Homo sapiens: one gene and its partners. The protein of the gene in region 4 purifies or fractionates together with the protein of the main gene of each other region. This does not show direct contact. Each region holds a gene or a part of one and is shown on either strand. Other genes may lie near its edges. The genes, in order: PIP4K2A, FAM13A, NFKBIL1 and AHCYL2.

Evidence for each region.
Region 1: the proteins of AHCYL2 (region 4) and PIP4K2A purify together in Homo sapiens (co-immunoprecipitation; 3 studies listed by BioGRID and IntAct, with this or other methods). This does not show direct contact.
Region 2: the proteins of AHCYL2 (region 4) and FAM13A purify together in Homo sapiens (affinity purification with mass spectrometry; 2 studies listed by BioGRID and IntAct, with this or other methods). This does not show direct contact.
Region 3: the proteins of AHCYL2 (region 4) and NFKBIL1 purify together in Homo sapiens (affinity purification with mass spectrometry; 2 studies listed by BioGRID and IntAct, with this or other methods). This does not show direct contact.

The regions. Positions count from the first base shown.
Region 1 is NC_000010.11:22,711,552-22,718,761, reverse strand, and holds the start of PIP4K2A (phosphatidylinositol 5-phosphate 4-kinase type-2 alpha), read left to right. Parts: upstream 1-4,183; 5' UTR 4,184-4,435; coding exon 4,436-4,579; intron 4,580-4,653; exon of another isoform or gene 4,654-4,826; intron 4,827-5,569; exon of another isoform or gene 5,570-5,712; intron 5,713-7,210. UniProt on the Homo sapiens protein: Catalyzes the phosphorylation of phosphatidylinositol 5-phosphate (PtdIns5P) on the fourth hydroxyl of the myo-inositol ring, to form phosphatidylinositol 4,5-bisphosphate (PtdIns(4,5)P2). Has both ATP- and GTP-dependent kinase activities.
Region 2 is NC_000004.12:88,781,177-88,788,203, reverse strand, and holds part of FAM13A (protein FAM13A), read left to right. Parts: intron 1-271; coding exon 272-451; intron 452-6,852; coding exon 6,853-7,027.
Region 3 is NC_000006.12:31,550,588-31,557,614, reverse strand, and holds part of NFKBIL1 (NF-kappa-B inhibitor-like protein 1), read right to left. Parts: intron 1-7,027. UniProt on the Homo sapiens protein: Involved in the regulation of innate immune response. Acts as negative regulator of Toll-like receptor and interferon-regulatory factor (IRF) signaling pathways.
Region 4 is NC_000007.14:129,389,029-129,396,055, forward strand, and holds part of AHCYL2 (adenosylhomocysteinase 3), read left to right. Parts: intron 1-27; coding exon 28-171; intron 172-605; coding exon 606-706; intron 707-7,027. UniProt on the Homo sapiens protein: May regulate the electrogenic sodium/bicarbonate cotransporter SLC4A4 activity and Mg(2+)-sensitivity. On the contrary of its homolog AHCYL1, does not regulate ITPR1 sensitivity to inositol 1,4,5-trisphosphate.

The DNA of each region.
Region 1 (7,210 bases), on a different chromosome or scaffold from region 4:
TGGCTTGAGGTCAGGAGTTCAAGGCTGCAGTGAGCTGTGTTCTTGCCACTGCACTCCAGCCTGGGTGTCAGAGTGAGACCCTGTCTCAAAAAAAATAAATAATAAAATAAATAAATAAATAATTTAATGATGTATTTGTGAATGGTATTGTGTTAGATGGCTTTCAAAACATGTTAAATCACCAGAAATTCTGTCCTTTGAAACCTGCAAGTCTCCTCATAACTACCTAAAAATACCACACTATGCCCCTATCTGTCCCTCACATGGTGCTATTGGCCTCTGCACCCACCCACAGATTGCTGCTTTCCTAAGGCGGAGCCTCTCCTAACAACAGGTATCCATCCCCTCTTCCTCTAGGGTCATTCAGCACTCTGTCATCACTAAATTCAGTTTTTTGGCAGTTGCAGCAAGCCTATTGTCTTGCATTATTAATATAAAATTAAGTATAATATAGCTATTATGAAACAAATAAATGCTATGGAAGCACTGAGGTGGAAGGATGAATTTGAATTAGGAGGATCAGGAAAGCATCAGGGAAGAGAGGATTTTTGAGTCTAATTGTTTTCAAGGGCAGGATCCAATAAAGGAGTTTAGGTTGGGTGGTGGTGAAAGGCAATAATTGATGATGATGGTAAGCCTTCAAGCCTGGCCAATGAAAATTTGTTAAATAAAAGAACTTCCAGCTGGGGTAACCGAGTGATATGAATGCCATTTCCAATATAATACAAGAAATAAAGTAACTTGTGGATGGGGAAAGATGTCAAACTTGGCTTTAGATATCTTTTTTTTTTTTTTTGAGATAGGGTCTTGCTCTGTTGCCCAGGCTGGAGTGCAGTGGTGCAGTCATAGCTCACTGCAGCCTCAGTGATCCTCCTGCCTCAGCCTCCCAAGTAACTGAGACCACAGGATGCATACCACCATGTGCAGCTAATTTAAATTTTTTTTTTTTTTTTTGGTAGAAATGAGATCTCGCTATTATATCCAGGCTACCCTTGAACTCCTGGGCTCAAGTGATTCTCCCATCTTGGCGTCCCAAAAGTGCTGGGATTACAGGCATCAGCCAGCATGCCCAGATGGTTTTAGACACTTTTAAAAGATGCCTGTGGAAAAATGATGTACAAATGTGCAACCAGGCATTTCTCTGGGGTCGGGGAAGAGTTTATGAGTTACTTGCAAGCACTCTACATTTTCTATTGTGTTGTCTGGTTTACAAAGGGTTTTCATTGCCATTATCTACTATTGATTTTGATTCTAACAAACATCCTATAATGTAGGTAGGGGAGGATTATATTACTAGGTTCAAAATAGTTCCTAAAGTGACATTTGTGTCTGATGATAGTTACTGTTAACATAAAGAACCCGAGGCTGGGAGAGGTTAAGTGATTTGCTCAAGTAAGTGGGAGAGCTACAGCTCAGTCCCCGTGATGTCTCACTAAAAATTTAGGTTTTGGGCTTTTTTAAACCACTAAGAGCAGTGATGGTTGATGCTGGAGAAGCAGATATCATTTTGGATGAAAGCAAGCAGGAAATTACGACGAGGGGACTTAAAAAACAGTCAAAGAAAGAATAGGAGCAAATGAAGGTGACCACATGACCTCCCCTCAACCCCTGAGGAGACTCAAGATCCTAAAGGGATAATGGCCTGTCATCCTTCATCTCCCTGACAGGACCAAGCAGTCTGCCAAGGGCACAGAAGGTATCTACTATATTTGAGTGGAGTAATAATGACAACAGACAACTTACAGCGGGTCCTCAAATACTGTCATTTTGTTCAATGTTGTTTTGTTATAATGTTGATGAGAAAAAAATGGATTTCTAGCCGGGACCACTGTTTGTATTTGCAGGTTCTCCTCGTGCCTGCAAGAGTTTTCTTTGGGTACCTTGGTTTCCTCTCACATCTTAAAGACATGCACGTTCAGTTCATAGGCTTGTCTACATGATACCAGTAGTTTTTCTTTTCTTTTTTTTTTTTTGTTTTAAGAGACGGGGTCTCCATCTATTACCCAAGCTAGAGTGTAGTGGCATTATCACAGCTCACTGCAGCCTCCAACTCCTGGGCTCAAGCAATCCGCCTACTGCAGCCTCCAGAATAGCTGAGACTACAGGTGTGTACCACCATGCCTGGTTAATTTTTGTATTTATGGTAGAGATGGGGTTTCACCATATTGCTCAGGCTGGTCTCCAACTCCTGGGCTCAAGCAGTCCACCTGCCTCATGCCTCCCAAAGTGCTGGGACTACAGGCATGAATCACTGCCCCCTTCCTAAATGGTCCCAGTTTAAGTGAGTGTAGGGGTGTGTGTGTGTGTGTGTGGTGTGTGTGTGTGTGTGTGTGTGTGTGTGTGTGTCTTGCAACAGAATGGCATCCTATCCAGGGATGGTTCCCACCTTTTGCCCAAGCTGAGCAGCTGGGATAAGGCTCCCACTATCTGTGACCTTGAACTGGAATAAATGAGTTGGAAAAATGAATAAATCCGTGAAACAAATGACTGTAAAATAAAAATATGTAAGTGTACATTAATCATAAAAATGCACGACAATAAATGAGATAGGAGTGCACTCAGCTACCATATTTGTGATTGTTTTTGAATTTCATGGTAGCAGCAGGTCCTACAGGCAACTTTTGCTTTGCAAACACTTATTCCTTGACTTAACCCAGCACCACAGCAACCATCGCTCACTTAATCACTAGAAATTTGGCAAACCATTATCTTGTTTTTATCAATCTTTAAAAAATGTAGGTAGGCCAGGTGCAGTGGCTGGTGCCTGTATTCCCAGCACTTTAGGAGGCCAAGGTGGGCAGATTCCTTAAGCCCAGGAGTTCGAGACCAACCTGGGCAGCATGGTGAAACCCCATCTCTACCAAAAATACAAGAAGTTTATCCAGGCTTGGTGGTGCGCGCCTGTAGTCTCAACTACTGGGGAGTCTGAAGTGGGAGAATCACCTGAGTCTGGGGAAGTAGAGCCTGCAGTGAGCTGTGATTGCACCACTGCACCCCCAGCCTGGTTGACACAGCGAGACCCTATCTCAAGGGAAAAAATAAAAATAAAAAAGAGGTATAGCTCACATTTATTTTAATGTTTAATATTAGAAGTGTTTTGAATTTTTACTTTGAAGTTCGGTGATGTTTTTGTAACCGGAAATAATGCTGTAGGAACTTAACTCTTTTTTTATATGTCAGCCTATGGCAAATTTGGTTTTGTTATATGTTGTTTTGCTTAAGGTGACAGTTTCCAAGAACCTACTCCGTGAGGACTGGTGAGCTGGGTCAGAGTAAATAGCACAGGATGACGACTGCAAGGACGATATGGGGGCAGCAGGGTTTTAGACATACTTGGAATGGCAGCTTCCTGAGGTAGGCCAAGTATTCTCAGCATAATAAGGGCTACATTTAGGTGTATCTGGAGGAAGACGGTGAACAGATTTCCACGGACGGTGAGTGCACTGGAAAACAGGCAGGGATGGCAAGTACCATAGTGATGGATTGGAAGAAGGTGCACTTTGGGGCATGATTCTACTGGTTAAGCCAAGGGCTCTCGATGAGGTCCGAGGTTCCTGCCCCGGGCACGGAGTGGGTTGGCAGTGACAGCCCAGCCTATTACGTGGGAGTCTCCCTCTTGAATGGCTCCAGGAGGCCCATATCGAGGGTCTGAAAGGCCAGACGGTTATCCGCACAAAAGTATTAAGTTCATTTCAGGGACTGACCCGGCAATGTGCCCGGGTCCTTCCCCTCGGTGCTGGGAAGCCCTGGTCTCCCTGCAGCATTTCACACCTGGCTGGGTCTCCTGACTCGTGGCGTGGGTGAGTGCATGAGCCTCCCTCCTTCGCCTGATCGACGCCTGGGGGCTCCTCTCCCCAACCTCCTCACTCTGCCCACTCTGTCCTCTCCCTCCTTGGGGAGCGGCAGGGGACGCCTAGCCGGGGTCCCCAGGCTCCCGCTCGCAACCCACGGCCTCCTCCGCGGGCAGGGAGCGAACGCCCGGAGGTCGCCCGCGCACAGGGGGCGGCCCGGCTGCAGCGGAGCCGGGGCGGGAAGGCGCAGCCTAACGGTCCAGCTGCCGCGCCCCGCGCCCCGCACCCAGTGCCCCGCCCGCGGCGCCGCAGCCGCCTCCCGCCTGCCCGCCCGCCCCCTGCGTCATGACGCCGGCGCCCAACGCGGAAGCCGCTCGCCGCGCGCCGGGTCCAGCCGCGGGCTGAGCGCGGATCCGCGGCGGGCGCAGGATACGGGCCGGGGCGCGAGCCGAGCGCAGTCTGCCGGGCCGAGCGGGCGGAGCGAGCCGAGTGGGGCTGAGCGCGCCGGCGGCGGCGGGCGGAGCGGAGCGCGGCGCGCCGGGGCCGCCGCCGGGGGGATGCGGCTGCCTCCCCGGGCCGGGGTGTAGAGAGGGCGGGTCCCCGGCCTCGGGAGCACGGCGGTGGAGGGGACATAGGAGGCGGCCATGGCGACCCCCGGCAACCTAGGGTCCTCTGTCCTGGCGAGCAAGACCAAGACCAAGAAGAAGCACTTCGTAGCGCAGAAAGTGAAGCTGTTTCGGGCCAGCGACCCGCTGCTCAGCGTCCTCATGTGGGGGGTAAACCACTCGGTAAGGGCTCAGCTGCGGCGCGCGGTCCCCTTCCTCCTCCTCCTCTTCCTCCTCGTTCCCCTCCTCCTCCGGCTGCAGCTGCTGCGGGGCGGGGAGCCGGAGTCAGCCCTGGACCTCCGGCTGCTCGCCCGCCTCGAAGCCCCCAGCCCCGCGGCGCGTGCCCCCAGCCCTCTGGGCCGCCCAGGCACCACCACTTGCGTCCCCTTTAGATCTATGGCCCGGTGCGGGTCGGGGGTCCCGTGTGCATGTGAGTCTCACGGTGGGTGCCAGTGCCGCCCCCGGTCCGCCCGCCCGCCCGCAGGTCGGTCCCCGCAGCCTGGGAGGTAGGAAGTTTGTGCGGGGCACGGCGCCTCGGCTGTCAGCCCCGGCGGGAGCTGCTGGGGGCCGGGTCCGGGCGACCGCTACCCGGTGTGGGGGCCGCGCGGCGCCCGCGTCTTCCGCTTGCGGGCAGGTGTACCTGTCCCGGGCTGGGCGCGTGCGAGCCTCCCACTGGGGCACTGGGGCGAGGATACCGGAGCGCGAGCAGATTTGGGGCAGCAGCTTTAGTGCTTAGGTCCTTTCTTTTTCCTTTAAAGGCAATATTACTGGGCACAAGTCGGCTTTTTGGCAAAGCAGCAGCCGATGTAAATATGGCTCTGGCGTCGGGCGGCATCCCTGCGCTTCTCCCGCATCGCCCTGCCGCTGTGCGGGCTGGAGAGCCCTTGGCGGGGAGTCTTCCTCCCTTCGTCGCCTCCCCCCACTTTGGGGAGTCAGGCAGAAGTCACCGACTGCGGAAGGGCGGCCGGGGCGGGGACAGCAGGCGGGGGTCCCGGCGGGCGCGGGCGGAGGGGGTCCCGAGTTGGCCGCACCCGCTGTGGGGGGTGTGGGAAAGGCTGGAGAACGCGTGGAAAGGTTAGCGTCACGCACAGTCGGGGATTGGAGGATGCGCCGCTGCGGGCTATGCGGACTGCGGTTCGAGGGTCTGAAATAGCCTCCTGCTGATCTGACAGCGAGAAACTCCTGCAGTTTTAATCCACTTCGATAGGATCAGGAAACATGATCGGAGCTGTTGGCTCAGCCAGGAAAGTTTAAACGAGCTGTGAATTTTGACCATGACCTTAGCCACTGCAGTCACTTAGCATCTGGGGAAAAGTGTAAGTTCGCTTTCCCTGCTTTTGATTTCGATGGATGTCTGTATGTCCTTTTCAGCGTAATGGAAATGACAGAAAACCATGCTGGTTTTTCGGAAAACACACACACAGACACACACACACACACACACACACACACCCTCAATGTAGTGAAGTTGTTTAAAATGCCTAAAAGCATCGTTTTTGTATTTTTCTTCCCCAAGCTGAGCAGGGGGAAGGGCAAAACAGTATCAGGATCGATCGTGTTTGCATGGAGTGAGTGTTTTTGGAAAAGTTGAGAAATGATTATTTTTATCCAGCTTAATGACTGACTCACTGAAGTTCATTTTAACTTCCTGGCAACTTCTTTAGCTATTTGGGAATGTAAGTTGTTACAAGAGCATGCATTACTGCACCAAAAACTCCTCTCTCAAGTTTTATTACGGAAAATGAAATGCAATTTTTCCTAAGTAATAAGTTTACAATGTAGAGTTATGTATAATTTTGTTAAGCTCTTTTATTATTTATGTTAGTAGTTTTTGGGTCCCTTATTACTAGAATAGAAACTTACAATTTAAAAAAAGGATGAATACTGTAGTGCTTACTCATATTTATGGTGCTTTTATCTCCTTTGGAGTTCTGGTGTTTTGGTCAGGAGAGTGTTTCTGTCTCGGGGTTTAATTTAGTAAGGTAGTGTCAACAATATGCTGCCGAAAAAGAGTGTGCTTTCTGGGAACTCGTCTGAATTCCAGTTTGCCTTAAAAAATCTTGTAATTGTGTATGTTTTACTGTAACCACTTACGTTGCTACCTTATATTTATGAATTGCTACATTTGTTTTAGAGTTTCTTGCTAATTGGAAATATTTTGAAACTACTTAAGTGTTTCATAGTGTATGACTTGTAAATAGTACATTTGGTGTTATTTTCTTTTGCTCTCAAGAGAAGTTGGCAGTTCTAAGTATCCACAACCAGAGGAGTGAAGTTTCCATTTCATATAAATGTAAGCATGTTACTCATTCAACAGATATATATTGGGCACATACAGTGCCAGCTACTGTGGGAAGAATTGCTAAAACACCTCTAATATTTTTATCCAACTGTCTTTATTTTGAGGGCTCTGAGTTGACATAAGAAAGGTCTGTTTCACAGCCTTTTTTTTCAAAATGTCTATTTTCTTTACTATATTATTTTTGAAAAAAGAATGGAGGTGTAATATAAACATGAAATCTAAAACCCTTAGATGCCATGTATTTCTGGTTTGATTTCATTTTAGGTGACAATGTCTGATATTAGATAAATGTTTTATATGACCTTCTGTGCACCAAAGTTTATAGTATAATGTGAGAATAAATATGTCAGCAGTCTTAAGAACAAACAAGCATGGTGTTGTATACGAGCATCTTCCACATACTGTGGTAAAACGCTCATTGAATCTGCGCTTTAAGTTTTTCTTAAATTCTAACTGTTGACCTTGGGCATGTTAAGGTCAGGTTTTGGCATCAGTGTTTGCATCTGTGAACT
Region 2 (7,027 bases), on a different chromosome or scaffold from region 4:
GTTGCTAGACTTGCCATGAGCATTTCAGCAATACTGGCTTCACAAAGATGAGAAAGTTGTTAAATTGGCAGAATTGTTTTCGTTTAGTTTTGGTTTTAACACATAATGCAGATATTTTTTAGATTAATGCCTCATCATCTCTCTTTGCTTATGAAGTTCTAAAGACTTTCCACTGGAAATACAGATGTTCCCAAAACTGTAGGCACAGATTTTTTAAGGTGATCACTGATGAACTTGACTGCTTGAATGACTCTGCATTCTTTTTTGCCAGACTCTTAGAAAGAACCATCCGATCAGCTGTAGAACAACATCTTTTTGATGTTAATAACTCTGGAGGTCAAAGTTCAGAGGACTCAGAATCTGGAACACTATCAGCATCTTCTGCCACATCTGCCAGACAGCGCCGCCGCCAGTCCAAGGAGCAGGATGAAGTTCGACATGGGAGAGACAAGTGAGTTGGCATTGATTCTTCCTCTTACTTGAGTTTTCTCTTTTTAAAAGAAATATACACCCAAATTAGTCGCTGTGTTATAGTCATACCTCCTGGTCCTCTCCCATTTCAGTATTTAGGTTAAAACTTTAAGAGTTATCAGTTTGTCCATTCTAAACTTAGCTACATTTGGAAATTCATAGGTAATTGCATAAATATTTCCGTTTCATCCAGACATTTGGTATGTTGTTAGAAGCCACCTCTGATTGAATACACCCTATGGCTTCCTCATAAATATCTTATTTAGAGGGATTCTGAACCATGGGCAGAGAAAGTTACCATATGCTTGTCCAGAGGTATTTTTTTTCTTGCTAGACAACATTAAGTTGACTATTTAGACTTGTTTATGGAGCAGCTGATTTCTCCATTATATTTATGTGATTAAATAGTCAGATATCCCTATAATACTCTGACATTTGATTATGTTTTAGTATAAGAAAGGTTGGGCTTAAATCTACTCAAAAAATGAAAAGCTTAAGTTGTTTATTATAATAATCACTAATTTTAAGGCATTCCCATAGTATGAATTTTAAGAATAGTGTTACAAAGAGCTTTATTCTCCATGAAAAGATTTAATAAAATACAGATGAACAATTACCATTTATATTATTTAATAATCATGACTTAAATTGTCAAGGAAAATAAATTTATATAGAGAATAGACTATACAGATATTCATATATTTTCCCTGAAAGTTCCAAGGTTATTTTTATTGACTATGGCCTTTAGCCTCTTTATGGTTTAATAATGACTCCTTATTAAATGTCAGAAACTAACCTGAACCAGACCCTAGCACCCCTCATTCTTTTTCTTTCTTTTCTTAATTTTTAATCTTTATGAATATATAATAGTCCCACACCCCTCATTCGCATTCTTTTTCACTTTGACTCATAATCTACATTAAACCCTTTATGGAAAAAGAAAAAAAACTTTTTTTCGCTTAAAGAAAAACATAAAAGATAAACAGTATAAATAAGTTTCATGCTATACCTCACCGAGATGTTTAAGAGCTATATTAGCAAATGTAATTTTAGAAATAAAGCAGTATCAATAATATAACCCACTGATTTACAAGTAGCATGTGCAGTACTTTTAAAATAAATTTTCATGGAGCTGGTGGATAGAATAGTTGTAATATTCCATTTAGAAAATAGAAAAAGTATAATATAGGAGATATTTACATTTCTTCTCCTGTGGCATGACATGAGATATTTACATTTAAAATTAGCTACTGACATGTTTATAGAAAGTGTTTAGAAGTATAATTAGTTTGTGTACTACCTCTAATGTGTTATAGAGAAAGCACAAATTATTCATTTAACACTGTTCTTATCCTCTGCCTCATTTTTTGCTGAGGAGTATGTAGCAACATTTTGCATTTTAAAAATATCCTCAGTGTGTCACGATATCCTGCTTTCCACCCTCTTTGTTTGGACAGAGGGCTAGCAGGTGGAGGTGGGAAGTGGTGGGGAGCATGAGAGAGAACAGAGAGTGATGGTGCTGTTGGTGGATGCTTGGCAGCAGGTCTGGGGGAGGACAGTGGAGGTAGAAACAGATAGGGGCCAGACAGGGCAGGGAAATGTGAAACACAGCCTCACCTCTCCTGAAGAATTTAAATAGAGAGCTTCCCAAGCCCAGGGACATTTCTTGCATAAGTTATCTTGATTGTTTTTTACTAGCAGTATTAGGAGAACCAAAGGAGATGGGGAATGGTAGCTGAGTGATGGTATGAAGACTATACCCATGAAACCCTAGCCTTTCCCTTAATTGTTCTTCTCTTGCTATTCCCTTCACCACTCCTCCTGGTCAAATCACAGTTGGGCATTGAGTGAGAGAATCTTGGGGTACAAACAGTACCTAACCTGGCACACTATGATACAATCGTGTCTTGATAGTCCTTCAACTCCCAGCCCACACTGAACGGCTTCTCTTAGCTCTCCAGGTCTTTGGAAGAGTGAGACCCTTATCTCTCAAAACCCCCAGATCCACTAATTTTGTCTGGCCCAGCTTTGACCGTAGGTCAGTAGTCATTTCCTGCAACCCCTCTCCCCTTATCTTCATGCTGGGTTCTGTTATCCTTTCACTCACCTTCTTTGATCCAGTGCTCTCATTCCGCTTGTTTCTTCCCAGCTCCACTCTTTCCTTTTGCTCATCTGCTTGCTTGAAATAGTTTTCCAGCAGGCTGATTCTTTCAGCATCTCCTCTTTGGTCTTAGATTTCTGTTTTAACCTTCCTTTCAATGAGCCGCCATAAAGGTCTTCTCCAGTATCTCCAGGAGAGTCATGAACATGTCATAAATTATAAGAAGATCAAGAATCATTAATATAGCCTACAGTCAAGAGTTCGTCATAGTATATGCTTCTATACAATTGATTCATTTAAGATTTTTCACAAGTCTTTACTCAAAAAATAAGGAAAAATTAAGCTAGGCTGTAATATTCTATTCAAAACTATAAGCTTTATGAAGTGGTTAAAAAGTGTTTAGAAACATAGAAATCTATTTATATTATTATCTATTATTTTGCCTCTAGTAACTTAGAGATGCAACAAATTAAAAAATATTCTTGAAGAAGCCAATGATGACTATGTTTCAAGATGAGTAGAAGGGTCAGTAAAGTCATACTAAAGTCGTCATGGCCCATTTTTGAAATAGCAGTACCGAAGATAGACAAAGACTACAAATAACTTCATTCATAGGTACAAATGATTTGTTATTTGTCTAAATTCATAAGGAAATATAATCAGACCTATATTACTATTTGCTACAATTTTGTAGCAAATTAATCTTCATTATGTAATAATAAAATCTTCATTATGTAAAAATATTCAGCTAAATTCATTTAGTAAAAAAATCTACTATCTGCCAAGTTTACAGAAATGTGAAATTTTGGTAATGGGTATATGGAAGTCTGTTATGATAGTGTCTCTACTTCTGTATATGTTTGAAAAAAATCATAAGAAATATTTTTTAAAAGCAAAGCATCATTTAAGTGAAAATGATTTTCAATCTTCTAAAAACACAGTGAACTGGAAAATTGATCCAAATGTTTCTTTGTTATATAAAGACTATATTAAAATCCTACTGCAAAGTAAAAGAAAAGCAGGCTATATTTGGGGAATAATAAATAGTTCAGCATTGCCAGGACATTAAGTAAGTATGTAGGGGTGAGGAGAAAATCCTGAAAAAAATATGGAAATAAATCTAGATAATGAAAGTGAGAGGTCCAGAGATCTAAGTTCAGTGAAATCCAAGTTATGTCAAATGTGATTGAAATCTGACAGAATATTGCAGGAAGGAATTGAGTACACCTGCTCCATCTAAGATTAGATTTAAAGAAATACAACCATGTGTTTTATACAGAGCTGTATCTAAATAAAGTGCCCCTGAAGTCTTCAACAGTGATAATTGAGCACCCAGTACTATAAGGTGATTCAATGATGAAAAACAGATATCGCATCCAGGCTCATGGATCTATAGTGTAATCGAAATTAGAGTTCAACAAAGTGAAGTAGAAGAGACACGTGGATGCACGTAAAAGCAAAGACTTCCCTCGGAGGAGACAGGATTTGTCCATGAGCACAACAGCATGGTCAGATTTTCATATATTTATTTTGACAGGATTTTTTCTAGTCATTCATTCACTATTCAAAATGATCATAAAATAAACTTTACTTTCTTATTTTTAAAAATCGTTTTTAGCTGTCGTCTTTAGTCTGCTTGGGCTGCCATAACAAAATACCACCGACTGGGTGGCTTAAACAACAAAAATTTATCTTCTGACAGTTCTAGAAGCTGTAAGTTCAAGGTCAAGGTGCTAGAAGTGTCCGTTTCTGTTGAGGCCTCTCACACTGGCATGCAGATGGCTACCTTTTCACTGTGTCTGCACATGCCCCTTCCCCTGTGTGCACACTCCTGATGTCTCTCCCTCTTCTTACAATGACATTAGTCCTATTGGATTAGGGTCCCACCCTTGTTACTCTTTTAACCTTATTTACCTCCTTAAAGGCCCTGTCTCCAAATATGGTCACATTGGGGGTTAGGACTTCAAAATGTGAATTTTGAGGGTACATAAATCCGTCCATACTAGCTTTAAAGCATTAAAGATCCTCCATTTAAAGGTTATAATTGGGGCTGGGCGCAGTGGCTCATGCCTGTAATCCCAGCATTTTGGGAGGCCAAGGCGGGCAGGAGTTTGAGAAGAGCCTGGCCAATATGATGAAACCCCATCTCTACTAAAAATACAAAAATTAGCCAGTGTGGTGGCGCATGCCTGTAGTCCCAGCTACTCAGGAGGCTGAGGCAGGAGAATTGCTTGAACCTGGGAGGTCGAGTTTGCAGTGAGCCTAGATCGCACCACTGTACTCCAGCCTGGGCGACAGAGCAAGACTCTGTCTCAAAAAATAAATAAATAAAAATAAAAGTGAAAAAAAAAGTTATAAGTGGACATATACCCCAAAAGCTAGGTTAATGGATACGAAAACATAGTTTGCAAAAGACCTAGTATTTGTTAGGACAACAGGGTGATTAGAATAAAAAATAAATTAATTATACATTAAAAATATCTAAAAGAGTGTAATTGGATTGTTTGTAATACAAAGAATAAGTGCCTGATGGAATGGATACCTCATTTACCTTAATGTAATTATTATGCATTGCATGCCTGTATCAAAATATCTCATGTACCCTGTAATTTATGTATATACACCTACCGTGTACACACAAAATTAAAAATAAATAAAAAACAAACAGAAAAAAAGGCTAGGAAAACTATGAAGAGTGATAAGATAGAATTTAAATAGTAAAATAAATAATTTTTGAGTTTTAGAATTACACCAAATTGATCCAGCCACCCACAGAAGGCACTGCTCTCAGTGCGTGGAGGGGAGAGATTGAGGAACATGTGCATGAGTATAAGTGCTTGCATTTAGTCCCTATCATCTTCTCCTCCTGTCTTCAATTACTTTGTACTTAGAATATCTCTTATAAATGTGCATAAATCTTTTATATAATTTTACTAAATATATATTTTCACATTAAAGTTGTAGAAAAAAGACTAAAATATGGAGTGTTAAAAATTACCAAAGATAGTATAACTTTGAAAATATTATGATAGTATTTAATTCATAATTTTGCCTGTTATACCCTGTCTAAAGATATGAATTTAGATTTCAGAATAAATATTTAATGTTATCTTTCATTTTGGGATATGGTTGAGCCAATAGTAAAATATGATATGTATTTTTACTCTTTAGAATTCATTTATTTCAAGATGCAGTTTTAGGTGTTTAGGGAGGTACATTAACTCACTCATACCACGAAGGAGGAGAATAAAGTCTCATTTATTTGTTCCTTACCAAGCCATGGTGCTGTGCTGATGGTTTTATTTGTTCCATGATATTGTTTCTTTTTTTTTTTAACTCAGTTTGCTAATTTACTCTTGTGAAAACCTATTATAGGAATGCTTAAGATATTAATACTTAAAACTGTTTTATGAACATCAAATGAATTAAATTCTATGACATTCATATCTACTTCTACAACTATGTCATGAAAGAGGTCTGTACTTGGAAGTAACAAATCCAGATTTCAGTTAAAATGCTTTGTATTCCATAGTTTTTATTAACTTATATAATTTCTACTAAGATTATCTATTAATAATTCAATGAGATTGAAATACACATTTCTTTTTTTTTAATTTTTTAATTTTTTTTATTTTATTATCATTATACTTTAAGTTTTAGGGTACATGTGCACAATGTGCAGGTTTGTTACATATGTATACATGTGCCATGTTGGTGTGCTGCACCCATTAACTCGTCATTTAGCATTAGGTATATCTCCTAATGCTATCCCTCCCCGCTCCCCCCACCCCACAACAGTCTCCGGACTGTGATGTTCCCCTTCCTGTGTCCATGTGTTCTCATTGTTCAATACACATTTCTACACTACTAAAATGGAAGATACAATTCCTTTTTAGATTTTTCTCCATACACTGTATGAATTTATAAATTTTAAATATATATATATTTAAACATCTACTGTGAATAATAGGAAATTTCTGTATAAACTTGCACTGTTCTCCCTTTTTGAATACAAATTACTTTTGGTAAAATACAAAAGCTGTCCATTGGTAGAAACAGCCCTTGCCAATTTGCCTCTAGGAATTATTTCTCTTTCAATGTGATTTATTTGGCACCAAGCAGTCCCAGGAGTGGCACTCTGCTCAGATTTTGATCAGAGATGCATACTGGAATTTCTGGGCACTCTTTGGATTTCCTAGGTATGATATGATGTAGTTAGAGTATCATTCAATGACCATTTGATCTTTTAAAATAAAATTAAGCTTTTTTCTCAATTCAAGGGGACTTATCAACAAAGAAAATACTCCTTCTGGGTTCAACCACCTTGATGATTGTATTTTGAATACTCAGGAAGTCGAAAAGGTACACAAAAATACTTTTGGTTGTGCTGGAGAAAGGAGCAAGCCTAAACGTCAGAAATCCAGTACTAAACTTTCTGAGCTTCATGACAATCAG
Region 3 (7,027 bases), on a different chromosome or scaffold from region 4:
AGCAGGGAGCAGAAGTTAGCTGGGACTCCCACTCCTCGGCAGAGCTGCCATCTTGAATCCTGCTGGTCACTCGCTCCCTTGGTCTTAAAGCAATGGAAGGGTGGCTCACATGGATGCCTCCTGGGTATTAGGAAATAACCATCACTGATAAATACAGACTGATAGTTTACCACATGCATGGTAAGTGTGGTAGTTTAAAATATTCTCGGCCAGGCGCGGTGGCTCACGCCTGTAATCCCAGCACTTTGGGAGTCCGAGGCGGGCGGATCACGAGGTCAGGAGATCAAGACCATCCTGGCTAACATGGTGAAATCCCATCTCTACTAAAAAATACAAAAAATTAGCCAGGCCTGGTGGCGGGCGCCTGCAGTCCCAGCTACTCGGCAGGCTGAGGCAGGAGAATGATGTGAACCCGGGAGGTGGAGCTTGTAGTAAGCCGAGATCGTGCCACTGCACTCCAGCCTAGGTGACAGAGCAAGACTCCGTCTCAAAAAAAAAAAAAAAAAAATTCTTACTTGTGTCTCCACAAACTATTTCAGCGTCCTAGAAGTTCTACCATGCCAACTGACATTTTCTGACCTGCCTCCAGCCACCAAGGCAGTGCCCAAATTCTTTGACTATGTATTCCACTTTTCACTTAAAAATATTGTCACTATATAAATCCCTTATTTTCTCACCTGAAACCATATATCAGACTGGGAAAATATCTGAATGCTCTACTCTGGGCCATTAATAAATACACAAATATGTAATACTTATCTTTTATTATCACTTATCAATAAACTGAGTAAAATAAATGTTTTCAGGGGAATTTCTCTCAGCCAGCCTTACCAGGGGATGATGGGAGAGGGGTGGGGAGGTGAACCGGCAACAACTATGGCCGGCGGCAGAGCAAGCTCTTTCCAAATGACTGCTGACCTAGGGCAGGGGAAAGGGAGTGGAGTGTGACAGAGGGTCTCACCCATGGGCTGAGAGAAAACAGGAGAGGAACCGACGTTCCTGAACTCCCCTTTTCTTCAGTCCCAACCTTGCTGCATCTGGCCCAAGGTTAGCTGAGTGCCATGCTACTTCCTTCACTGCCAACCCAGGCATCCTGGCCAGGCCCACCTGCTGTGGCCACCAACCACCTCTTTCACTTGGGGGATAGAAGAAGGGGAGGGAGGCAGCCTTCCTTCCTGTGGACCTACTTTCTTTCCCCGGGGTAAGAGGAAATGGGCTAGCAGTCCTTAAATCTTTATTTGGTAGTGCTGGAAAGTACTGTTTACCTGGCAGAAAGCTGGAATAGGGGAAGGCAAGGCCAGGAAGGCAAGAAGACAGAATGGCCCAGGTGTGGCTGGCGAAGGCCCACCATCCCTACCCAAATCACATCAGGGTTGGTGGGGGGGGGCACTTCTCCCTAGTGCTGCTGTGACCTGTCACAGACCCTCTCAACTTGTCCCACCCAGAAAGTACCTGGTCCTGTCTCTCATTCGCTTGTTCCCCACCTGAGCTCAGGTGGTGAGCATGGTGAGTGCTCAGGCTTGCATGGGAGGTTTACATTCATAGGTTTTAAGGAGTAGGGCCTCCAACTATAAAAACATAATATTAAACAGCCACTACAACTGAGGCATGTGTTTGAAAAAAGCTGGCTACAAAACTGTAGAGAGGATCAGATGTGGCCAGGCACGGTGGCTCACGCCTGTAATCCCAGCACTTTGGGAGGCTGGGGGGGGGGGACAATGGATCACAAGGTCAGGAGTTCAATACCAGCCTGGCCAAGATGGTGAAAACCCGTCTTTACTAAAACAAACAAACAAAATATATATATAATTATATTTTATATTATATATAAAATTAGCCAGGCGTGGTGGCTGACGCCTGTAATCCCAGCTACTTGGGAGGTTGAGGCAGAGAACTGCTTGAACCTGGGAGGCGGAGGTTGCAGTGAGCCGAGATCGCGCCTCTGCATTCCAGCCTGGGTGACAGGGTGAGACTCTATCTCAAAAAAAAAAAAAAAAAAAAAAAAGAGAGAGAGAGAGAGGATCAGATAATAACTGTCTAAAACAAGAGACCAAATCCTATGGTTGGAAAAAAAGAGGCCGGGCGTGGTGGCTCATGGCCTGTAATCCCAGCACTTTGGGAGGCTGAGGCGGGTGGATCACCTGAGGTCAGGAGTTCGAGACCAGCCTGGCCAACATGGTGAAATCCTGTCTCTACTAAAAATACAAAAATTAGCCAGGCGTGGTAGCATGTGCCTGTAATCCCAGCTACTTGGGAGGCTGAGTCAGGAGAATCACTTGAACCTGGAAGGCAGAGGTTGCAGTGAGCTGAGATCATGCCAGTGCACTCCAGCCTGGGCAACAGAGGGAGACTCCCATCTCAAAAAAAAAAAAAAAAAAAGAAAAAAAATAGACTGGCAAAAAATATGTAAAAATTCTAGCCTATGGGTGGTGGGGCTGTAGGTGGCTTTTCCCCCAATTTTATTTGACATTTTAATGTGAAAGGGATATAATTAAGTTGAAATTTTCTTTTTAAAGAAGGACGAACAAATTTGATAACTATTAACAGTGTACTGTGATCCCTTCCAGTCCCACCTTGGTGTACCTAAAAGCATACATATGACACATTTATTTGGAGATATGTAACCATACTACAAATATTGCTTGGCAACTTGCTTCTTTCATTTAACATCTCATTTATATTTTTCCACAGGAATATATACAGTCTACCTCATACTTTTTGACGACTTTATAATTAGTGTTCCACTGTGTGTACAAAACAAATCTCCTTACCCCAATATCGATAGACTTTGTTTCAAAAAATGTTCAGCCTCATGAGTATCTTACAGTCTTTCTGTGGGGGTAGATTTTCATAAGTGGAATTTCTGAGTCAAAGGACATGCGCAATTTGGTCAAACTGCTCTCAATAAGTTTGTGCCAATATACAAGTGTGCCTATGTCTTCCTTTACCAAAATTGAATATCATCAACCCTTTTAATTTTGCCAGTTGGATAGATTAAAAAATTATTTTATTAACAATGTTTTTTTCTTTTTCATGTCTTTTGGCTATTTGTATTTTTTGTGAATGAATTGCTCATATTCTTTATCCACTTTTTCTTTGGAAATTATATATATTGATATGAGGGTTCTATATACTGTATGTGTTATACATATTGCAAACATTTTCTTCTATCTATCTTTAAAAAAGCTTTTTTTTTCTTTTTGAGACAAGGTCTCACCCTGTTGCCCAGGCTGCAGTGCGGTGGCATGATCTTGCTCACTGCAAACTCTGCCCCACCTGGGCTCAAGCGATCCTCCCACCTCAGCCTCCTGAGTAACTGGGACTACAGGACGACAGCCACGTACCACCACGCCTGGCTAATTTTGTATTTTTTGTACAGACCAGGTCTCACTGTGTTGTTCAGGCTGGTCTTGAACTCCTGGCTCAAGTGATCTGCCTACCTTGGCATCCCAAAGTGTGGGATTACAGGTGTGAGCTATCGCACCCGGCCTAAAATTTTCATGTAGTTAAATCTATATCAATATATTATTTTCTGACTTTTTATTTCACTTCACTCTTAGGAAGGCTCTATTTTAAGATTATAAAACATTCTCTGCATTTTCTTCTACTACTTTAGATGTATACTCATTTTTATTTTTAGAAATTAAAAAACTCGGCCAGGCGCGGTGGCTCATGCCTGTAATCCCAGCACTCTGGGAGCCCAAGGTGGGTGGATCATGAGGTCAGGAGTTCAAGACCAGTCTGGCCAAGATGGTGAAACCCCGTCTCCACTAAAAATACAAAAATTAGCCTGACGTGGTGGCGGATGCCTGTAATCCCAGCTACTTGGGAGGCTGAGGCAGAGAACTGCTTGAACCCGGGAGGCAGAGGTTGCAGTGAGCCAAGATTGCGCGACTGGACTCCAGCCTGGGTGACAGAGTGAGACTCTGTCTCAACAACAACAAAAAAGAAATTAAAAAACTCTCAAAAATACAAAGTATAATACAATACACAACCCCATTCCTACCACAGGGTTTGTTAATGTACTGTCATGTTTGTAGTATAATTTATTTTAAGGAAATAAAATCATCACAGATAAAGGTAGTTTACCGTGATACCGCCTTCCAAGTTTCATTCCTCCCCAGGCCATCTGTCCCATGAATTTGGTGTGTACCTTCCTGTCATATTCAGGTATTTAATCTGCTGGAATTTACTTTTTGATTAGGTGTGAGGTGGGACTCTTGTTTTTCCCTAGATGAGCCAAATGTTCCAATATTATTTATAAAATAGTTCACCTGGTCAGGCACAGTGGCTCATGCCTGTAATCCCAGCACTTTGGGAAGCTGAGGTGGGTGGATCACCTCAGGTCAGGACAGGAGTTTAAGACCAGCCTGGCCAACACGGTGAAACCCCCATCTCTACAAAAATACAAAAATTAGCTGGGCATGATGGCAGGTGCCCAGCTACTCAGGAGGCTGAGGCAGGAGAATTGCTTGAACCCGGGAGGCGGAGGTTGTAGCAAGCTGAGATTGCGCCATTGCACTCCAGCCTGGGTGACACAGCGAGACTCTGTCTCGGAAAAAAAAAAAAAAAAAAGTTCACCTTTCTCCAGTATTAGAAATGCCCCCTTTAGGCCTGGCGCGGTGGCTCACGCCTCTAATCCCAGCATTTTGGGAGGCCGAGGCGGGCGGATCATGAGGTCAGGAGTTCGAGACCAGCCTGGCCAACACAGTGAAACCCTGTCTCTACTAAAAATACAAAAAATTAGCTGGGCGTGGTGGCGGGCGCCTGTAATCCCAGCTACTTGGGAGGCTGAGGCAGGAGAATGGCTTGAACCTGGGAAGCGGAGCTTGCAGTGAGCCGAGATCACACTACTGCACTCCAGCTTGGGCGACAGAATGAGACTCCATCCCCCACTTCGCCAAAAAAAAAAAAAAAAAAAAAAAAAAAGAAATGCCGCCTTTATAGCGATTTACCAGATCAACCGTTCTCAATGCTCTTTAATACGCTGGAGTTTCATACTAAGAAAAATAAACATAAAAACATTTTGGCCAGGCGCTGTGGCTCACGCCTGTAATCCCAACACTTTGGGAGGCTGAGGTGAGCAGATCACAAGGTCAAGAGATCGAGACCATCCTGGCTAACATGGTGAAACCCCGTGTCTACTAAAAATACAAAAAATTAGCCAGGCGTGGTGGCATACGCCTACAGTCCCTACGCCTATAGTCCCAGCTACTTGGGAGGCTGAGGCAGGAGAATCTCTTGAACCTGGGAGGTGGAGGTTGCAGTGAGCCGAGATTGTGCCACTGCACTCCAGCCTGGGCGACAGAATGAGACTCCTTTTCAAACAAAACAAAACAAAACAAAACAGAAAACAAAAACAAAACCAAAAGACATTCTGTGGGATGGGCACGGTGGCTCATGCCTATAATCCCAACATTTTGGGAGGCTGAGGTGGGTGGATCACTTGAGGTCAGGAGTTTGAGACCAGCCTGGCCAACATGTTGAAACCCCATCTCTACTAAAAACACAAAAATTAGGTCGGGCATGGTGGCTCATGCCTGTAATCCCAGCACTTTGGGAGGCCGAGGCAGGTGGATCATCTAAGGTCAGGAGTTCGAGAGCAGTCTGGCCAACATGGTGAAACCCCATCTCTATTAAAAATACAAAAGTTAGTCGGGCATGGTGGCAGGCTCCTGTAGTCCCGGCTACTCAGGAGGCTGAGGAAGGAGAATCACTTGAACCCAGGAGGCGGAGGTGGCAGTGAGTCAAGATACTGCCACTGCACTCCAGCCTGGGGAACAGAGGGAGACTCCGTCTCAAAAATAAATAAACAAATAAAAATTTAAAAATTAATAAATAAAAATAAAAAAATTAGCTGGGCATGGTGGTGTGTGCCTGTAATCTCAGCTACTTGGGAGGCTGAAGCAGGAGAATCGCTTGAACCCAGGAAGCAGAAGTTATAGTGAGCCGAGATCATGCCACTGCACTCCAGCCTGGGCGACAAAGCAAGACTCCGTCTCAAAAGGAAAAGAAAAAGGAAGCTGGAAGCTGAATGAGATGGGCCTTTCAACCAAGGAGTTAGAAGGCCATCTGGTGGCAGGGCTGGCAGAGGACCAGGAGTAAATAAGGCCAGAGAGGACACCAGGGTCTGGGAGTGAAGGCACTGAGCTTGGGTCCCCCTTTGGAAGACAATGACCTGAGAGCTGTGAGATTTCAGACAAGTTCCCGAACCTTTTGGGCCCTGCTTTCCTCATCTGTAAATGGGATAATATCAGTCTCACCAGCTTCTTAAAATTCAATACAATGGAGTTGGGTGTGGTGGCTCACGCCTCTAGTCCCGGCACTTTGGGAAGCCGAGGTGGGCAGACTGTTTGAACTCAGGAGATGCAGAACAGCCTGGATAACATAGCAAAACAGTCTCTACCAAAAATACAAACAATTAGCTGGGCATGGTGGTGTGTGCTTGTAGTCCCAGCTACTAGGGAGGCTGAGGTGGGAGGACTGCTTGAGCCCACGAGGTAGAGGCTGCAGTGAGCCATGATTGCACCACTGCACTCCAGGCTGGGAGACAGAATGAGACCCTGTCTCAAAACAAACAAGCAAACAAACAATAAAGGAAATCCCTACCACACTATCAGGGGCATTTTGGCTGAGCGCGGTGGCTCACGCCTGTAATCCCAGCACTTTGGGAGGCTAGGCTGGCAGGTCACCTGAGGTCGGGAGTTTGAGACCAGCCTGACCAACACGGAGAAACCGTCTCTACCAAAAATACAAAATTAGCCGGGCGTGATGGTGCATGCCTGTAATCCCAGCTACTTGGGAGGCTGAGGCAGGAGAATCTCTTGAACCCAGGAGGCAGAGGTTGAGGTGGGCTGAAATCGCGCCATTGCACTCTAGCCTGGGCAACAACAGGGAAACTCCATCTCAAAAAAACAAAACAAAACAAAAAACAAAACTCCCATTTTTGCGAGGCAAATTGGGCTCACAGAGGTAAGCTGCATGTCCCTGTTGATGGCAGAGCTGGGGTCTGGATGCAGGTCTGCTT
Region 4 (7,027 bases):
CGAGTGTTTTTTATTCTGTCATTCCAGCGGCTTCATATACAGATAGCTCTGATGATGAGACATCGCCCAGGGACAAGCAGCAAAAGAACTCTAAGGGAAGCAGTGACTTCTGTGTTAAGAACATCAAACAGGCAGAGTTTGGACGAAGAGAAATTGAAATTGCTGAACAAGGTAAAGAAAACAAGCACCTTTTCCTTCTTAACCTACCTGTGTCTTTTTGTCCATATTAATCCCTTTTTATGTCTGGGGTCTGGTAGCTTGTGAAATTTCTATGTGATAAGAATACTTATAACAAAAGAAATGTGAGTTCAAGAAACACTGGGGAAATCTGGCAAGTCTAGAAGGAACCCTGTATTAAAAAAAAAAAAAAAAAAGGGAGAGAGACTGGATAAGGACTGGAATATAGAGAATCAGAACCCTGGAGCATTTGCCTCCAAAAGCCCTTTATAAAGGAAAATACAGGTTTAATGTCTTGATCCCTGGAGAAACCTAATCTAACCTGATCAGGGGAAGGATCTTAACTTAAGAAAACAAGTTTTTCTGTTTGTTCTTTTATCTCTTATTCCTTCTTCTTTAATATTGCTGTATTTATTGGGCCTTTTCAGAAATGCCTGCATTGATGGCTTTGAGGAAGAGAGCTCAAGGAGAAAAGCCTTTGGCTGGAGCCAAAATCGTGGGTTGCACACACATCACTGCTCAGACTGCTGTGAGTTCTTTTCTTTTCTCCTTTTAATTACAATAGTTAATAATAGCCACGAGCTACTGAAAGCTTACAACATGCCAAGCACCGAGTTAAGAGCTTAACAAGTATTAGCTTATTAATCCTTATAATGGCCATATAAAGCAGGTATTCTTGTTTCCATTTTATAAACGAAGAAGCTGAGGCTCAGAGGGCTTAAGATATTTGTTTAAGGTTATACAGCTAGAAATCACAGAGTCAAGATTTTAACTTCAATATACAGTAGTCCCCCTGCCTTGTCTGTGGGGGATAAGTTTCAAGACCCCTAGTGGACACCTGAAACTTCAGACAGTACTGAACCCTATATATACTATGTTTTTTCCTATACATATATACCTATAATCAAGTTTAATTTATGCAATTGGCCCTGCATGTCCACCAGTTCTGCTTCCTGAGGATTTGACCAACTGCAGATCAAAAATATTCAGAAAATAAAATAATACAACAATACAAAATAACAAGAAATATAACAACTATTTACATAGCATTTACACTGTATTGGGTACTATAAATAACCTAGAGATGCTTTAAAATATACAGAAGGATGTGCACAGATTATATGCAAACACTGCATCATTTTATATAAGGGACATGAGCATCCTCAGATTTTGGTATCCATGGGAGTGCTGGAATAAATCCCCTGAGGATACTGAGAGACAGCTATAAATTCAGCACAGTAAGAAATGAACAACAGTAACTCAAAATAAAAGAGAGCAATTACAACAACAGACTGTAATAAAAGTTATGTCACATAAAGGAATTTATCACAGTACATAGCAGAAAGTCCAAAGGGAAGGCAGACTTCAGATGCAGGATCTCAGGGCTCCAGCTTCACCTCTCTGATTCTCTTGGAGCTGCCTCCTCAGTATGCTTACTTCACCCTAAAGCTGATAGCAAGATGCTTACAACTATTCTAGTCATCACAAACTGACATGAAAAGGAAGAGGGACCATTTCTTCCTCACTCAAGAGAAGTCCCTCCAGGATACTCCATCGTGTCTCATTGGGCAGAACTGGATCATGTATCTGTGCTCCACCAGTCCTACCGAGGGGCGTGGAATTACCATGATTTGCTTACACCAGTGATTCCTACCTTACTCTCATCAGTTTTAATGTCCCCTTTTTATTAAAAAACTTTTTTTTTGCAGTGTCCCTGAACTATCCTGAAATGAAATTCAGATATAACATGTCCAGGTACATATAATCTTTAAAAATAAATCAATATAAAATCTTAACTGAAATATGAAGGAGGAATAAAAAAAGTACAATACTTAAAATAATGTGTATTTCAATATGTAAATACTTGAGGACAACTATAGTAGAACAATCAGATATTTGTACTATTTCACAGTATTATTTGAAATAGTATTATTTGAAGACAGAAATAAATGTGTTATTGATTCCAGAGCATCAGAGCAGCATTGCCATGATTTTCTGAAATAGTAAACAACTTTTTGTAATCTTCTAAACAATAAGAACAACAAAAAGTATGAGTTTTCTCTTCATTTACATAGCTGTTACATTCCTGGAAAAACTATTGTTTTGTATTAAAACTACAAAACTACTTTTTGCTAATTTGTAAAGTGGAATTAGGTTCTAAACTCAGATAATTGTAGATAGGTTTTTCACCCATGGGAACTTTTATTGGGACATTTGAAAATTGTACCAGCTGCAACACAGTTTTTTGTTGAGACACTTTCAAAATGTCCAGATTCCTGGTCCTGCCCACTAAATGCCAATAGCACTCCCCTTCCAATTATTGTGGCAACCAAAAATGCCCCCACAATTTTCTAGATCTCCTCTTTTATCACCAGAGATGCAATATATATGGAGTTGCTAACCATAATGAGACCACTATCGGGAAATTGTTATATTGAGCAGTGGTCTGGAATCTTTTATGGGGATTCATAAGATCTGGGTCATCTGTGTGGCTAGATCAGCTTTCCAAAGATTGTCTCTCCCAAAGCACAACACTTATGTGGTCACATTCCTGATTAAGAACATTAGAGATTCCTCAAGGTACAGACAGCTTCTATTAGCATCTTCACTATGAAACTTTTCTGGGTTATGTGTTCTCTGAGGACAAGAGTACCCTGACTGCTCAAAATTAATATAATAAATTGAAAAGCTATCTGTTTTGGAGCTACAAACTAATGAATCAAGACAGAAACACTCTTGAATCTTTTTTGGCCTGCTCAGTCAGCGACATGAGACTTCAGTGTGGTAGCTTAAAATAGTAAGTGCTTCTCTACTGTCTCATGTTGCTGAATTACATCTAGTTTGTTTTTTACCCTTAGGCTCAGTGAGCATTACCACCTTTCATGGTTCCCTTTCTATTTTTTTCCTGAATGGATTGATCACAATTAGCTTACCAATTTTAATATTAATTTATTGTTTCCACCCCACATTTTTTTCCTTTAAAAAAATAACGACAAAGAAATTATGCTTTGTTTGCCAACCTAATACTCTTTCACTCTTGTCTTAGTTCATTTGGGCTGCTATAACAAAATACCTTAGACTGGGTAATTAATAAACAATAGATATTTATTGTTCACAGTTCTGGAGGCTAGGAAGTCCAAGATCAAGGCGCCAGCAGATTCAGTATCTGGTGAGGGCCTGTTCCTTATAGATGGCGCTTTCTATGTGCCCTCACATGGCCAAAGGGGCAAGCAAGCTTCCTCAGGCTTGTTTTATAAGTACACTAATCCCATTTGTGAGGGCAGAAATCTCATGTCTAATCACCTTCCAATCACTTCCATAATCACCTTTTAATACCATCGCCTAGGGGGTTAGTTTTTAACATATGACTCTGGGGGAGGAGAACATACATTCAGACCATAGCAATCCCCAAATACTTTAGTGTGTATTTTCTACAAAGAAGGACATTTTCCTGTACTAGCAGTATAACCATCAGAAGTAGAAAATTAACATTGATTCATTATTACCATCCAATCCTTAGATCCCACTGGAGTTTCGCTTGTTGTTCTGATAATATTTTTCTAACAAAAGAATCCAGTCCATGGTTATATGTCACATTTAGTTGTCATGTCTTTTTAATCTTCATTAGTACAGAACAGTTTCTCAGTCTTTCTTTGATTTTCATGACCTTGACACTTTTGAAGATTACAGATGAATTATTTTGTAGAATTTCCTCAATTTGGATTTTTCTGATGCTTCCTCATTATGAGATTCAGGCTATACATCTATGGTGGGAATTCAGGGAAGTGATATATCCTATCAGGTGACACATGATTTCAGTTTGTCCCAGAACTGATGATATTCACTTTAATCCCTTGATTGAGGTGGTGTCTCCCAGGATTTTCCTCTGTAAAAGTTTTTTTCCCAGTTTATAATTAATATGTTTTTTGGGCTGGGTGTGATGGCTCACGCCTGTAATCCCAGCACTTTGGGACGTCAAGGTTGGCAGATCACTTGAACCCAGGAGTTGAAGACTAGCCTAGGCAACATGGTAAAACCCCATCTCTACAAAAAAATACAAAAGTTAGCCAGGTGTGGTGGCATGTGCCTGTAGTTCCAGCTACTTGGGAGGCTGAGGTGGGAGGATTGATTGAGCCCGAAAGGTCGAGATTGCAGTGAGCAGTGAGCTGAGATTGCACTGCACTCCAGCCTGGGTGACAGAGTGAGACCCTGTCTCAAAAATAAATAAAAATAGAATTAATATGTTTATGTGAGATAGTACTATGAAACTGTAAATATCTCATTCTTTATCTTACTTTGATTTATTCATTATTTTTATTTGTATGGAATCATTGTTTCCTATTTTATTTAATAGGTTATAATCCATTACTATCATTACTTATTTACATGATCATCTTGTTCCCAGTTTGACCAGGGAGAGCCTCTTCAGTGTGGCTTCTGTGACTTCTTTTGTCTTTTGATATATCCCTTTCATTCTTTGAACATTTCCTTGCTTTTGGTACAAGATCACCTAAGCTCATCTTGAACATTCCATGCCCTACTCTTGGAACCAGCCATTTCTCCCAGAATGCCTAGCTCCTTTTAGTGGATCTGGGCACTAATGTGCTCTTTGCTTTTGAAATGTCATTGTTCCCAGATCCTCTTTTTTCCCTCTCCATACATGTAACTGGAGTTCCAGAAGGCAAAGAGGGAAAGAATCCATAGACTCCCATAGACCCCATAGATTTTGAGCACTCCGTTGTGATTTTTTTCTGCCAGTCTTCTTCTTTTTGTATTTCAGTTCAGTAATTTCTTTTTTTGTTGTTGTTTTGTTTTGTTGAGTAGGGTCTCACTGTGTCACCCAGGCTGGAGTGCAGTGGTACAATCATTGCAGGCTCATTGCAGCCTCAAACTCCTGGGCTCAAGCGATCCTCCTGCCCCAGCCTCCCAAGTAACTGGGACTACAGGCATATACCACTATGCCTGGCTAATTTTTTTTAATTTTTTGTAGAGAAGAGATCTTGCTGTGATGCCCAGGCTGGTCTCAAACTCCTGGCCTCAAGCGATCTCCTGCCTCAGCCTTTCAAAGCGCTAGGGTTACAGGCATGAGTCACTGTGCCTGGCTCAGTTCAGTAATTTTTATTGGTCTATCTTCAGGTTCACTGATTCTGTCCTTGGATGTGCCCGGTCTGATGATAAACCTGTTGAAGGAACTTTTAATCTGACTTTTTTTTTTTCCTGGCATTTGTATTTGACTTTTTTTTTTTTTTTTTTTTTTTTGAGACAGAGTTTTGCTCTTGTTGCCCAGGCTGGAGTGCAACGGTGCAATCTTGGCTCACCACAACCTCCACCTCCTGGGATCAAGCGATTCTCCTGCCTCAGCCTCCCGAATAACTGGGATTAAAGGCATGTGGCACCAAGCAGCTAATTTTGTATTTTTAGTAGAGATGGGGTTTCTCCATGTTGGTCAGGCTGGTCTCAAACTCCCGACCCCAGGTGATCTGCCCACCTTGGCCTCCCAGAGTGCTGGCCTTTACAGGCCTGAGCCACTGCACCCAGCCTGTATTTGACTTTTTATTGTTTCCATCTCTGCTGAAATTTTCTATCTATTCATAGATGTTGTCTATCTTTCTCAACTAGATCCTTTAACATAAACATATTAGTCCAGCCTGGGCAATATAGCAAGATCCTGTGTATAAAAAAATATAAATAAATAACATAAACATATTAATCATAGTTATTTTATATCTCCTGTCTGATCAAACATCTGGCTCATCTGAGAGCCTGCCTCTGTTGTTTACTTATTTCCTGACAGTGGGTTTTTTTTTTTACTTTTTGTATGTCCTGACATTTTTAATTGAGTGGTAGTATATTAGTTTTCGTTATAGTCATGAATTGGGCTGAATTTAGAGTTCATTGTATATCAACAAAGGCTTCAAATTCCTCCAGCAGTGGACTGCTATAACCTTGTGATTTGAGGTTACCAAAGGACATTCCTCAGTGCTTCTGCTTTACCCTCAGCCTTCAGCTACTTCTGCACATGTGTGCCACAGAAGTGTCCTCTTTTCAAGTACCTGCCTCATCTGCCGCACTAGACTGCTGCTCTTTGTTTCCTGGGGCTAAGCACACGGTGAGGGCAAGTGGGGTTCTTGGATCTCTGGTGCAGTCTCAGTCTTAGGCAGACCTCTGTGAGGGGCAGGGTTTTCTCAATATTCCTGCCTCTCCTATCTGTAGCAGCCAAACTTTGCCTTGAATCTGTGGTGGGTCTTGGGCAAGACATATTTTCCTGCCCTTCCTGGAGAGCTGGAGAGGTAGCAGATCCTTACTTTGTATCAGTGAACTGTCCTGGGCCCAAGAGGTTTTCCTGTGCCTCTCCCAGAGGCAGAGTTTTTGCTTCTGCCTTCCTCCAGACACAGTGGATCTTTGCCTAGTCCCTAATGGCAGGCCCAATTCCTGCTCTTCCTACAGCTTGAGGCTTTGGTTCCTATGAGAGAAGAGTGTAGGGAAGTGCCCAGGTTTCATGTCTGTTTCTGAGCACAGCCAATCAGCTCCCTGCCCCAGTCTTTGTTTTGAGCACTGGGTGGAAGCCTCTGGAAAACAGCCTGCATGTGAATGGGAAATCTACTTGTGTCTGGAGCTTCAAAAAATTCCACATTGACACACTTTCCCACACCCAGCCTTTCGTAATTGTTCAAAAGTTTAGCTGATATTTTCTTATTCTTATCTGTGGCAGCCATTTCTTCCCCCCATGCACTGCCAAAGGTGAAACAGTCTTCCCTCTCTCTTTAAAAGGATTTGTCACTCTTTGGAGGGCAGTTCACTTCTGTGCTTTATGACCTCAAATCTTTGATGGGCTCAAGAAAAGTTTGGC